Linked DNA regions of Homo sapiens. The protein of the gene in region 2 purifies or fractionates together with the protein of the main gene of each other region. This does not show direct contact. Each region holds a gene or a part of one and is shown on either strand. Other genes may lie near its edges.

Region 1 (7,000 bases), on a different chromosome or scaffold from region 2:
AAGCTGCACCTGTTCTTGTGATACACGAGCTCCTGCATAGTTATAATTATGCCTTATTTCATTCCTAGTGTTTTATGTGCCTTCCATCTTTTCTTCTAGATCAGTTTTGTTCACTATTATTTCTTTTCTAGTAACTTTTCAGAAAGAAAGGAAGGAAGGAGGAAGGGAAAAATATATAAAAGCTCTACTAACGCACCCATTTTAAAAACTAGATACTTCATTAAAACTGATAGGCTGTCTTTTAAAAATCATTCTGTCCAGCAATTTTATTATTAATGAAGACTATGTTGCTTCAAAACAATTAAAAACAACCTTAATTAAAATTTAACATCTTTTAAATTCACATTTTCTTTTAACAAGTCCAGGCAAAGTATCGTCCTTTCAAATTAATCACGGCAGTGTCCAAAATCATGGCTGAGAAAAAAGACTGTCAGGATTACACAGGGAAAGTTATAACCAAATTATATTCCCACGAGCAGTCTAAGAGAGAATTTATTACATTCTTGACAACTCTGGGCTTTCATAATTTAAGAATTATGGAGTTTTATTATATGTTTTATATTTATTTATTTTATTTTTTGAGATGGAGTCTCACTTTGTCACCCAAGCTGGAGTGCCGTGATACGATCTTGGCTCACTGCAACCTCTGTCTCTCTCAGGTTCAAGTGATTCTCCTGCCTCAGCCTCTCAAGTAGCTGGGACTGGGACTACAGGCATGCAATGCCATCCCCGGCTAATTTTTGTATTTTTAGTAGAGATGGGGTTTCACCATGTTGGCCAGGCTGGTCTCGAACTCCCTACCTCAGGTGATCCACCCACCTTGGCCTCCTAAAGTGCTGGGATTACAGGTAGGAGCCAACTTGCCCGGCTTTTGTTTTATATTTAAATTTAAATCAGTTCATGCTTACAGTGATTATCTCTAGAAATTGAAATAGGAAATTTGCATAATTTCTTCTTATACTTTTGAATGTTTCATGACATGTCTGCACTACTTGTTACAGCAAATGCAGAAATAGCATTTGCTTCTATTTTCTTTTTTTGTTCTTTGAGATGGGGTTTTGCTGTTGCCCAGGCTGAAGCCCAGGCTGGATCACGGCTCACTGCAGCCTTAACTTCCTGGGCTGAAGAGATCCTCTCACCTCTAGCTTCCTGAGTAGCTAGACCACAAGCACGCGCCACTATGCCTAGCTAATTTTTAAATTTTTTTTTTTGTAGAGACAGGGTCTTACTACATTGCCCAGGCTGGTCTTGAACCCCTGAACTCAAGCGGTCCTCTTGCCTTGGCCTCCCAAAGTACTAGCCACTGTGCCCAGCCAAGCATTCACTTCTCAGGGAAGGTGTAATACACAATATAACATTTGCAGTTACCATGAAAATAGAAATGAAAAGTTATTCATGGTAACCAGCAGACACTGCATGTATATGCAGAGATAGTTTTAAATAACATCTTGCTTTGCTAGTACTATACATCAGTGTCTTAAACATTTATTTATAATGTTTATCGATATCTTAAAAAGCACAGCATATTCTTTGGTTAAAAGATTTACATACATATCTGAGAACAACAGGAAAATTTGCTGGTCCAAATGTATGTGAAACTTATCCACTTCCCTGCTTTGAAATTTTAAGTATAAGGGAAGGAGGAGGAAAAGGCCGAGGAGATGCAGAAACACAGGTCATATGAATCTAGACCCCAGCTTACCAATAGTCAATCTCTGCTTCCATTTACCTCCTCCCAAGATGTAAGCACACATATACATACCTGTCCATCTACTAAAGCTGTAAGTGGAAGATAATCAAAGAGATCTGTAAAATATTTCCAAACGTTGGCATTCCCATACTTTCGCAGACATTCATCATAAAAGCCATATACTTGGGTAATTTGTCGGCTTTCGTGATTTCCTCTCAATATTGTAATGCGTTCTGGATAACGCACCTGGAAGAAAAGGAGTAAAACCCATAGTAAAATCACATTTTTACTAGTGTCATGTGAAGTACACCAGTCTCTGACCCATTTTTAAACACGGCGCTTTTGGCCACCAGTATATTAAATGTTAATTTCAGTTTCAAAATAAAAAACTTGCTTATTCATAACCAGGTCTTACTGGTTAACATTTGACGTGTTTATTATAATCATCCTTTTTCATCAGGTTTCGACAACCCTCATCAGAACCTTTAACTAATACTTATATTACTATAATAAACTTGTATCTGATACTTTGCTTCTATTATCTTCATCATCAAATTATTACTACTTTCCTAAATCTTTCTAGAACACTATGACTTCTTACTGCTGAATGAGTAGTGAAAATCACAGGTTTGAAGCTGAGACAAACTCTACAGATTAACTTCTTCCCTTTTCAATTTTTATTTCCCACAGGAAGATTGGATTTGCCAATAATAACACAAAAACAGGCCCTTGACAAAACTGGGCAAGATTTCAAATGTATTAATAGTTTCCTTTCTATTAAAAAACATAAGCGACTATTTAGTTAGGAATGCATCTGATAAGAAATACGAAAAAGCACTGGATTCTGCAAATTAAGCTAAAAGCTGCAAGTATGTACTTCAATTCATACATATTTTACTAAGCATCCGTTATGTGTCTAACGTAAGTTTGGTGCTATAAAGCCAGATGCCAGATCTACACAAGTACAGTCATGTGCTGGGCAGCATTTTTGTTAACAGATTACATGTACGATGTTGGCTGGAGCAAGAGACTATACCATTACAGCCTTTGTGTGCAGTAGGCTATACCACCTAGGTTTGTGTAAGTTCCAAAGATGACAAAATCACCTAATGGCACATTTCTCAGAATGTATGCCTGCAGTTAAGTGACCCATGACCATGTAATATATGGCTTCTGCTGTTGAGGGACTAACCTCACTAAGGACATATGTAAAATAATAAGTAATAGAAGGCAATAAGCCACTTTTGCAGCATAAATAAGGGCTGGGAGAATAAGTTTCCTCATAGTAATTTAGAGCAGAAGGAATAAGGCTAAAATGGTTGAAGGTTACATGGAGGAAGTGAGACCTGAGCTGAGTCTTGGCAGAAAGGTAAGAAATCAGGGACAGGATAACCTCGTGGGGGAAATCGACTATGGAAATAAACAGAGTCCAGAGCACTGAATAAGAAGAAACTTTGATTTGAGCCAGAGTTTATGCTACCAACCGCTGGCAGGCAAAAATTCAGACTAGACTATAGAAGGCCAGGCAAGGAGTTTGAATTTGATTCTATAGGCAACAGGCAATCAACAGGAAGTAACAATATAAAAGGGTTAAATAAGAGATTTCATCGGCCAGCGTATGCCAGGTGGATTTGGGGGGGATCAGATCTTGGAGGCAGAAATATTAGTTACTAAGCTATTGTAACAATCGAATTGTGAAGTGATAAACTGTGTGAAAATAGAAAGAGACAGGAACAACAGACTTTTCAAAGCAAGGATTTAAAAAGACTTGTCTACTGACTCAATATAACGGATAAGTGATAAAGTCAAATATGATTCCAAGACTTCAGCTATGGACTACTCGAGAGAATGATACATTTATCGGGAATACACAGAAGTTATCCTTTTCACCTCTCCTTTAAAAAGATGTAAAACCAATTATTATTTTAAGGGGCTATAAACTGAACAGACCATAAAACAGATGATATGCAATACTGTCATTCTTGCCTTTTGCCTGGTTTAAATCTTGAAAAAAAAATTGAATTTCAATAATCATACCTTTAATGCTACAAGAAGAGTCACAGTCTCCACTGAATAATATCCTCTGTCTACATAGTCACCCATGAATAAGTAGTTTGTATCCGGTGATTTTCCACCAATTCTAAAGAGTTCCATAAGATCATGAAATTGACCATGCACATCTCCACAGACAGTAACAGGGCAACGAACCTCTTGCACATTTGATTCTTTTGTTAAAATTTCCTTTGCCTGTTAGAAAAGTGAAATCAACAATTACAAAGTTAAAACTATCATTTCTTATCTATTAAAAGAAAATTTGGGGAAAAAAACACTTGAAAAGTGCCTTATAAAAGCGTATGTGAAAACCAAACCACGAGATAACACTTTCATTAGAAAGGCTATAATAAAAAAGACAGTTAATAAGTGTTGCAAACATGTGGATAAACTGGAACCCTCATACACTGCTGGTGGAAATGCAAAATGGTGCAGCTGCTGTGGAAAACTGTCTGGCAGTTCCTCCAAAGTTAAACCTAAAATTACCATGTAATCCAGCAGTTCCACTCCTAGGTATATACTCAAGAGAAATGAAATCCAGTTTATACATGTTCATGGCAGCATTATTAATAACAGCCAAAAAGTAGAAACCACCAGATATTGATCAACCGATGAATGGACATAACATATTCATACAATGGAATAGTCACTCAGCTATGAAGAAATGAAGTACTGATACATGCTACAACTTTGAAGACATTATGGTAAGTGCAAGAAGTCAGTCACAAATGATCACATAATGTACAATTCCATTTACATGAAATGTCCAGAATAGGCAAATCTTCAAGGCAGAAGGTCTGTGTTTTAAAAAGAATAATCTTATTATTCACAAGTTTAAAAAGGTCAATGAAAGAAAAAAGTCACAAATTATGCAAATTCTTGTGTGAACAAACATTCTTACACCAATTCATAGGCCAACCTTGAATTTCTTTATTCCAATTATTTTATATTTATAGAATTAAGTTAGAAAATACCATTAGGTGGCCCTGAAGTACAGAATTTATGCTTAAACACTGGCAAATGAAATGTTCTGACTAAATCGAAGTTCACTAATGGCTCATCGATCTGGCCTCTCTGCCTAATAGCAAAAGATCCCAGAATCAGGAAGAAAAATTTAAAAGCCTCTGAAGTAACAAAACAGACATCATAAAAATGTATCTAACCCACCAGAAGAGACTCTCAGGCCTTATTCTGGGCCTACTGTTATCTACAAAATTCCAACAAGCTATTTACCGAGTTTCCAGGTCCATGAGAAATTAGAAACAGAAAACCACGAAAGCTAAGAGATGAGAACTGGGACTAATACAGAATGCAAACCGAGAGGAAGAAACAACCGGATGGCTAGCATAGCTAAAACACAGGGCAGCCTGGCGCGGTGGCTCATGCCTGTAATTCCAGCACTTTGGGAGGCCGAGGGGGGAGGATAGCTTGAATCCAGGAGTTTGAGACCAGGCTGGGCAACATAGTGAGACCTCTGGTCTCTATAAAAAATTTAAAAAATAGCTGGGCATGGTGGTGTGTGCCTATAGTCCCAGCTACTTAGGAGGGTGGGGTGGGGTGGGAAGACAGCTTGAGCTGGGGAGTTCAAGGCTGCAGTGAGCCATGGTCGCACCACTTTGCAGTTAACCCCGGGTGAGAGTGAGACAAAAGAAAAAAAAGGCAACAACACAGCACAGTGAAAGTCAAACAGGGCCGGGCACGGTGGCTCATGCCTGTAATCCCAGCACTTTGGGAGGCTGAGGCAGGTGGATCACGAGGTCAGGAGATTGAGACCATCCTGGCTAACACAGTGAAACCCCATCTCTACTAAAAATACAAAAAATTAGCCCGGCATGGTGGCGGGCGCCTGTAGCCCCAGCTACTCAGGAGGCTGAGGCAGGAGAATATGACATGAACCTGGGAGGCGGAGCTTGCAGTGAGCCAAGATCGTGCCACTGCACTCCAGCCTGGGCGACAGAGCAAAACTCAGTCACAGAAAAAAAAAAAAAAAGTCAAACAGGATGAAGCTTAAAGTAAAAGCAGATGACAGCTTAGACTGGTGGGGGAGAGAGCACAATTTTAGGGACAGACAGTTCTCTGCCTCTTCAGTGATTTGATAATCTGAAGAGTATTTAAAACATGGATTTTGAGTTTCACTGTATTTCCTGCTACTCTGCATTTTTGTCAACAGACTTTAACACTAGTTGAGGGATACTCAACCTGTAGCGATTTTCAAAACACACAATAGTTTGTACACACACTGTAGGAATCACAAAGTTACTCTAGCCCCAGATTACTTTATGCCAACTAGATGCGCCCAGCCCAGACTCTTAATTTGAAGCAACTCTAAAGAGCAGGGACAATGGCAAGTTCTATTCCAACAGAAGTGTTCTCTCTAGTGTTCTAAATCATTTCTAAGGTATGATTCTGACTGCACCTCTAACCTCCCTTAATTTCTGCAAAATGCTCATGCTTGGTTCTCCAGCTTTTCTTTTGATTCTAGGCTACCATGTATTCTTCTACAAATGCCTTTTCTGCTTATAGCCTGGTAGGATTCCCAAGAGTTATGGACAATGTAGCCCATACTTTCTTCTCCTTGCTTGTAATTAATTAGAATGAGATTATATGCAATGAAGTCTTCCAGAAAACATGGGTTCTCTTCAGTTTTAATCTAATTGTGTAATCTTAAGGCCTTTATACCCTTCAGTTTCTTTTCCTGAGATCACAAATTAAACAATAATTTTACCAGAAGCCAAGTTTATTCCACAAAACAGCTCCCAATACACCACAAACATTCTGCACACCACATATTTTTTGCATATGAAGAACATGGCTGAGGAGATTATATACAGAAACATAATGGTTGTCTGGGAGGTAGGAGGGCAGGGGACAGGAATGGTGGGTAGAGTGCATTTGCTTTCCTTGCTACCTTTCTGAGGTGCTTGCACAAATTTTCTTTGAGACAGGGTCTCGCTCTGTTGCCCAGGCTGGAGTGCAGTGGTGTGAACGTAGCTCACTGCAGCCTCAAACTCCTGGGCTCAAGCAGTCCTCCCACTCAGCCTCCTAAAGTGCTGAGATTGCAGGTCTGAGCCACCGTGACTGGCCAATGCTCGAAATTTTAAAAAACAAATTCTGTATTACTTTTTCAAACGGAAAAAACCTGGCTTCTTAAACTTCAAAACAAATTCCAGATGGCAGTAATTATAAAATATCCACACAATGGAATTTTATTCAGCCATAAAAAGGAACGAAGTCCAGATACATGCTACAATATGGAGG
Region 2 (7,110 bases):
TTGTGGAACCACCTCCCGATGGTCTCTTCTCTGTGAGGGAGGAGGCGGGGGGGTCTTTGGGAAATCCCAGAGGGACTGGACAAGGGTGTGATGGGTGGGGACTTGGGGCTGGTGGGTGTGGGTTTAGAGGTCCCCAGGCGGCCTCCCCCTGAACGTCCCAGCGCCCCCAGAGCAGGTGTGCGAGCACTGATGGGATTTCCTGCATTTCTGTGTTAAGGGAAACAGATGGCCAAGCCTCGGGGGGCAGTGATTCTGGGGACTGGATCTTCACAATCCGAGAAAAAGATCCCAAGAATCTCGAGAATGGAGCTCTTCAGCCATCGGACTTGGACAGAAATAAGGTACGTCTGCTCACTCCAGAATGGCCACGCTGACCTCAGTCTGCAGTGTTTTGGAGGCACTTGTGTGTGAAGCTTGCTGTGGGTGCGGCTGGGGTCCTTTGTGGCAGCTGTCCTGGAATTTTGTTGCTAGGGGATGGGCAGATGAAGAGCTTTAGTTCTGTCTGATGATCCAGGTGTTCACACCAGGGAGTCTGGCCTCTGGTCTGTTTTGTGCCACTCTATTCTGCTCTCTGCAGCCCTGCTGTTGAGTTAGGATGTCCCGATGTGGCAATGTCATGGGGTTTGGGGGTGACCCGTGAAATGACTTCATAGCTCTGAGGGACTGTTGTGCATGTTGCGGTTACTTACATACATATCATAATTTTGTGACTGAGTTTTAAGGACCTTATAAGTAAATGCATTGCTTTTGATATTTATGTAAAACAATTTTGATTAATTGGTTTTATGCCTGTTAAATTTATGAAAGGCCATATATTTAGGGTCTTGTAAAGCATAGTGGTGTAGTTTCTTTCAGGCAGGGTGGGCCAGTGGCTGTCCCCTGTTGATCCTACAAGTCCCGCTTTGATAAGTGAACAGGTGTTAAATGTCCAAATAGAGGTTGCAAAAGTAGAAACTCGGTCTCTGTCCTAGACAGCCATTGGAATGGCCAATCTTGACCTGATTTCTATTTCCAGGGTTTCATTAGTAAAGTACTTTTCTCTCTCTCTCTCTCTCTCTCTTTTTTTTTTTTGAGACGGGGTCTCTGTTGCCCAGGCTGGAGTGCAGTGGTGCCATCAGAGCTCACTGTAGCCTCAAACTCCTGGGCTCAAGTGATCCTCCCACCTCAGCCTCCTGAGTAACTGGGATTGCAGGCATGTGACATCACGCCCAGTTTATTTAAAACTTTTTTTTTTTTTAATAGAAACATGGTCTCACTATGTTGCCCAAGCTGGTCTCGAACTCTTGGGCTCAAGTGATCCTCCTGCTTCGGCTTCCCAAAGTGTTGGAATGACAGGCATGAGCCACCACGCCCAACCAGTAAAGCACTTCTGCGTAGATAGCAAGACGAGGCAGTTCACCGCCTGTGCCCACACAGAGTCCCCTTCCACATGGAACCCAGATGCTGGTTTCCCCGGTGCGTGGGTTTTGCATGTCACTGCAGATGAAACTTTGAAGTCTAGTGAGAGGCAGCCGATAGTCTCCTTCAGATGTTATGGTGCGCAGAGGGTGTTTCCTCAGCGTGAAGTGTAGAGGCAACTCCTGCGCTTCCATAGTCCAGGTGGGAGGTTTATTAAATTATTGCCAATGTGAACGTCAACTGTTTCTGATGACCTTTTTTTCCCTCTCCCCCAAGATGAAAGACATCCCGAAGAGGCCTTTCTCTCAGTGTTTATCTACAATTATTTCTCCTCTGTTTGCAGAGGTAGGTACCTGGCTGGCCTTTTCGGAGTGGGAGGGGAGGGGGAAGGAGAAGCTGGACACACTTCAGTGGTGATGTTGCCAGTTAAGAGTTGGGGACATTAAGACAAGCTGGCAAAGGCTCGGAAAGCCTGCATGGTGCCTTCCCAAAGGCTGTCAGCACCACCTTGCGCCTCCCCTGTCCTGGGTGATGCCCACTCCGCCGCAGCCTGGAATGTGTAGACTGGATGACAGTGACCCAGCCCGAGACCCTGTGTCACCCGTTGCCCTGCTTTTTAGCAAATCTCATTGTGTACAGCCTGCTCTCTTTGCCTCAGACCAATTTCTGGCCATGTGAAAAGTAGATTCTTTCTTCTAAGGAGACGTTGGATGCCCTGGAGTCCTCCGGTTTCCCCTGAGCCACATGTTTCACTGAAGTCCCTCCTCTGCTCAGCAGTGCTGTGCTCCCAGCTGGGCCTCCCCACGCCCACTCCCTGCTCAGCCTCTCCCTCCCAGAGGAAAGTGCTCCCGTGGCCGTGTTTTGAGAGATTTTCAAAAGTAGGCTTTATAAGAATGAAGATTGTTCTGCATCTGGTTAGTAGCGGATTTGAAAATAAGTTGGAAGTCCCCTCTTTTCTTGTTGTGCCCCTTCCTGGCTGAGGCTGCCTTTGAGGTACTCACTGTGGGCCACACACGCATCTGTTTGCGTGGGGATCTTCCCTCTTTGGGCAGTTTTCCACTGCGGCTGTGTTTAGGGGTCCTGGTCCTTGAAGGGGAGGTGCTCAGGAGAGGAAGTGTCATAGGAGCTCATTCTCCTCCCCTGTGCCTGCGTCACGCAGCGGGGGACCCCCGGCCATGGGCCGTGCCTGGCCAGCCACGGTCCTGCCAGTGCCTCTTCCCAGCCCTCCAATAAGCCTTCACCTGTTGCCCTGCCCAGCAGGTGCCCTGGAGGGTTTGTCTGAGGGCCTCTGACCTGGCAAGTTCAGGGCCCGGTGGGAGCAGGGCTGTGGCCAGAGCCCGAGGCCTCACCTGCAGCTTCAAGTGGGAAGTAGCCGAGCCCGCTGGTGTCGGGGAAGCCACAGGGCACGCGGAGGCCCTGCTGGATGATGTCTGGCTTCAGCCCTGGCTCATGGTTCTGGGCACCTGTGTTCTTCCTAACTAGGATGTCCGGGTTGAGCGCCATCCTGCGCTTCATTTTGTCCCATGGGAGTTGGCCCCGTGGGATTTCCAGGCTGTGCTCCTGCGGCCCTGCCATTGGCCGCTGGAATAGGGTCAGTCAGGCAGTTAGGGAAAGTGCATGGACTTTTTCATTCTCCTGAGGCTGTTTATTTTTTTACTGGGCCCATGAAGCAACTTTGACATAATTATTCAGGACATATCCTAAACGCCGTCATATCCTGGATTTTCCAGGTAACCAATTGCTAAACTCACAGGCATCTTTCCCAATGTATTTTTAAGAATGATATTTGCTACCCTAGAGTTCAGAGTGTTTATTGTGTATTATTTCATACAATACTTGTAGAAGCCCAGTAGAAGGATTATATCCCCATGCTTACAGATGAGGACATTGAGGAGACGGGTGTTGGCGTCCCTGCTTTCCTTCAGGGAGCACAGGTCAGGTTGCTCCCTGAAGTCAGTGATGGGTCCAGCACGTTCCACACGGCAAGGGGACAGGCCCTCTCCCAGGGCGGCCCTTCTGCCGCCTTTGCTCCTTCTTTGAGACTTAGGGGCGGGGCATGGGCAGGAGGGAGAGTGCTGGATTGTAGCTGACCCTCTCGGGACTTGTAAATACTGTCAAGTGATTGGGAGTCCTAGACAAACACGAGTGGCCGCCTCGGGGCCGGCGGCGTGGCCCTGTGACAGCAAGAACTTCAGGAACAAATGCTCTCTACACCCACTGGCCCTCCAAGGTCAGACCCTTCTAGTTCCTGCCTGCCCCTTCAGTAGCGAAGAGAGAAGCCGTTGCTCTTAGGGCAGGGCTGGGTTTGGAAATGACAGCATGTGTTCAACAACCTGAAAACCAAGCTGAATGTCGCCTGAGATGTTTCTTTCTTCCCTGAAGAGGAGGCGGTGTCCATCACAAAGAGCCTCTTCTGTTGAGTTCTGAGCCATGCTGTATCTTGACTTGAACAGCTCTTATTTTCACAGTTCACGTTTTTGGGCCTCCAGAGAGAGACTTGGAGTTGACCTTCAACTGAGGGAAGTGTCTGAAGGCACTGTTGTGATTTCTCTTGGGAGTAGAGGTGCCAGGAAGAACACTGGAGATTCCCAGAATTTAAGGCTGCCACTTATTTACATGAAATCAAATATTTTGACTCTACTCTGGATCACAAAGGCAGTTTGCTGGAGTTTAAGAACCAACCCATTAACATTAGGAAGTAAGCAGTGTTGAGATCAGAATAACTTAGGATAGGCTTTGAAATTGCTTTTCTGGTACAAGGTTATGGTTGAAATAGGAAAACAGCACAGAGAGGACAGTCCATCACGGTGAGACTTGGGAAAGGCACACAGAGAGCTAGTCGTCTCTGTTCTGGCCTCGAACAGTAATGATTATGGTCTGATGATTGCCCTGTGTATACATAACTGCTCTCAGAGCATTTGAATCACCTTTCTTCAAAAGGAACCCGGGCCGGGCACAGTGGCTCACGCCTGTAATCCCAACACTTTGAGAGGCCGAGGCGGGCGGATCACTTGAGGTCAGGAGTTCAAGACCAGCCTGGCCAACATGGTGAAATCCTGTCTCTATTAAAAATACAAAAACTAGCTGGGCATGGAGGCAGGGGCCTGTAATCCCAGCTACTCGGGAGGCTGAGGCAGGAGAATCGCTGGAACCCAGGAGGCGGAGGTTGCAGTGAGCTGAGATCACGCCACTGTACTCCAGCCTGAGCAACAAAGCCAGACTCCGTCTCACAAAAAAAAAAAAAAAAAAAAGCAATTTGAAGTGGCCTGGAGCCCTAGCCAAAGCTTTTCCCGGACACCCTGGGGCTGGGGTAGTGTCGTGGTCCACACGCCGTGTTGTTCCTTGAACAGCATGCTTCCCAGTTTTGCAGCTGGTGTGCTTCATGCCATTCTTCCTGTTCGTGTGTTTTCAGTTGAAGGAGAAGAGCCAGGCGTGCGGAGGGAACTTGGGGTCCATTGAAGAGCTGCGAGGGGCCATCTACCTAGCGGAGGAGGCGTGCCCTGGCATCTCCGACACCATGGTGGCCCAGCTCGTGCAGCGGCTCCAGAGGTAACTACCCAGGGCCCCTCTGGGCTGGGGAAGGAGAGACCTGCACTTGGGCTGGGACTTAGTTGATGAGTTTGGTACTTGATTCTTGGCCTGTCTGTTCCTGTTATCTTGCAGGCCTCAGGGTAGACAGAGTTGAATTAGAGGAGACTTTGTTCTGAATTCTAGAAATCAATGTGAATGAAGGATCTGAATCTGGAAACTACTGGAAAGCCCACAGGACTTAGTGCATTTGTAGCTTTTGCCACATAAATACAGGGTGGTGGTGAAATACCTGTTTCCTCTTAATTATGCAGCTTAATTATTGGCCAGAGAATGATCGTTCTTAGCCAGATGTGTGTAACTATCTATCTGGTTTTCGGCTTTAAAGTCAAGTGTGAGAAATGACAGCAGCTTTGGTGTGGTCAACTCAGCGGGAGCGGGCGCAGGTGTGTTCCCTGTGTTAGCTGTGTGTGTCATGTCTGGAAGCCTCCTTGGTAGGGGTTCATCTGTGCCAGCCTGTAGGGAGCTTTTGTCCCTGCCCAGTGGCCCCACCTGTTGAATGCACTATGGGTGAGGACTCAGTGGGGTGACAGTTTTGCCCTCCCTGCCCCCTCCCAACTTGTTGTAGGAGTATCCATGGGAACCAAGCCCCTCCTGACTGCCATCTGGCACAAGTGCAGGCGTTTGGAGGCAGTGGATGTGTGCTGGGAAGCCGCTCTGTGTGACCTGAGGGTGATTTGTCACTGGGCTGTCCTCCACACCCCCAGGAGGACCAGGCGTGCTGCTGCCTTGACAGTTCATCTTCAGGTGTCCAGGCTGACACCTCCCAAAGCTGGCTGAGACTCTGTGATCATGAGGGGGATTTCTGGGTCTTTCCTGAGACTGCGTCCCACCTGACAGTACATAAAGAAGTTTTGCACACGTGAGGTCCCTTTTGCTATTTGGAAGTGATTGAAGGGGCTGCCTACTGTCCTGTGAAGAGCCCCTCTACGTGGGGACAGCAGGAGAAAACCACAGTTCTGATACTTCACGTTTATGCTTCTGAACTCGGGTTTCTTAGTAAGACATTTCAACTTTTTAAGTTGCTAGAAAATAAAAATGATCTACTTGGCTGCCTTCAATTTTGAGGCAATTGAAGGACGATCCCTCCCTCCTTTGATACTAAAAACAATATAGGAATAAAGGAAAATAGAATTAAAAAGTCACCCATCTTTTGCCTGAACACAAACTTTTTGATTTCTCAAACTTAGCATCACATACCTCATTCTAGAGGCATTTATTTCCCATTAGAAAGAGCTTTATAATAAAACAAATAGAACAAAACCAGAAACGGGTAGGATTGTTACTGTCTTGTTGGGCATTTTGCTCTCTGCTTTTGTAGTATTACTTTTAAAACCAATACTTTCCACACTGTCCAGAATTGCCTGAAATTGTTATGAACTGTTTGTTTATATACGTGACTTGATTTCCCCAGGGCAGCTCCAGGGCACAGAGTGTGTGGCTTGTATGTGTTGAACTGATCCACGTTTCCCATTCCCAGGCCCCTATCTCTCTGTTCCTCTTCTTTTAGTTGTTAAGGCAAGTTGATCTGTACCAGTGCTGGCCAGTAGAAGTACAGCGTGGGCCACACACAGAATTTTATGTTTTCTGCTGGATGTGGTGGCTCATGCCTGTAATCCCAATGCTTTGGGAGGCCCAGGCAGGAGGATCGCTTGAGGCCAAGAGTTTGAGACCAGCCTGGGCAAAATAGCAAGACCCTGTCTCTACCAAAAAAAAAAAATTTAGCTAGGCATGGTGGCTTGTACCTGTGGCCCTAGCTACTTGGGAGGCTGAGGCTGCAGAATTGTTCGAGCTGAGGAGTTCGCGGCTATGGCTGTGATCACGTTTGCACTCCAGGCTGGGCAACAGAGTGAGAACCTGTCTCTAAAAACCAAACAAAAAGAGAATTTTACATTTTCTAGTAGCCATATTTTTAAAAAGCAAAAAGAAGTGAAATTAGTTTCAACAATACATTTTTTAACCTGCCAGATCCAAAGTATTATTTCAACATTAATAACAACAATCATCAATAAGGTATTTTACATTTTTGGAGGGACCGTCTTTGGAGTTGGTGTGTGTTTTACACTTAGCACATCTCCATTCAGACGCAGCACATTTTACGTGCTCACTGGGCATCGTGGCTGG

The links. The genes of interacting proteins can lie anywhere in the genome.
Region 1: the proteins of STK24 (region 2) and PPP2CB purify together in Homo sapiens (affinity purification with mass spectrometry; 5 studies listed by BioGRID and IntAct, with this or other methods). This does not show direct contact.

The regions. Positions count from the first base shown.
Region 1 is NC_000008.11:30,795,819-30,802,818, forward strand, and holds part of PPP2CB (serine/threonine-protein phosphatase 2A catalytic subunit beta isoform), read right to left. Parts: intron 3,938-7,000; coding exon 3,728-3,937; intron 1,937-3,727; coding exon 1,763-1,936; intron 1-1,762.
Region 2 is NC_000013.11:98,455,005-98,462,114, reverse strand, and holds part of STK24 (serine/threonine-protein kinase 24 isoform b precursor), read left to right. Parts: intron 1-217; coding exon 218-341; intron 342-1,674; coding exon 1,675-1,743; intron 1,744-4,810; coding exon 4,811-4,947; intron 4,948-6,938; exon of another isoform or gene 6,939-7,110. UniProt on the Homo sapiens protein: Serine/threonine-protein kinase that acts on both serine and threonine residues and promotes apoptosis in response to stress stimuli and caspase activation.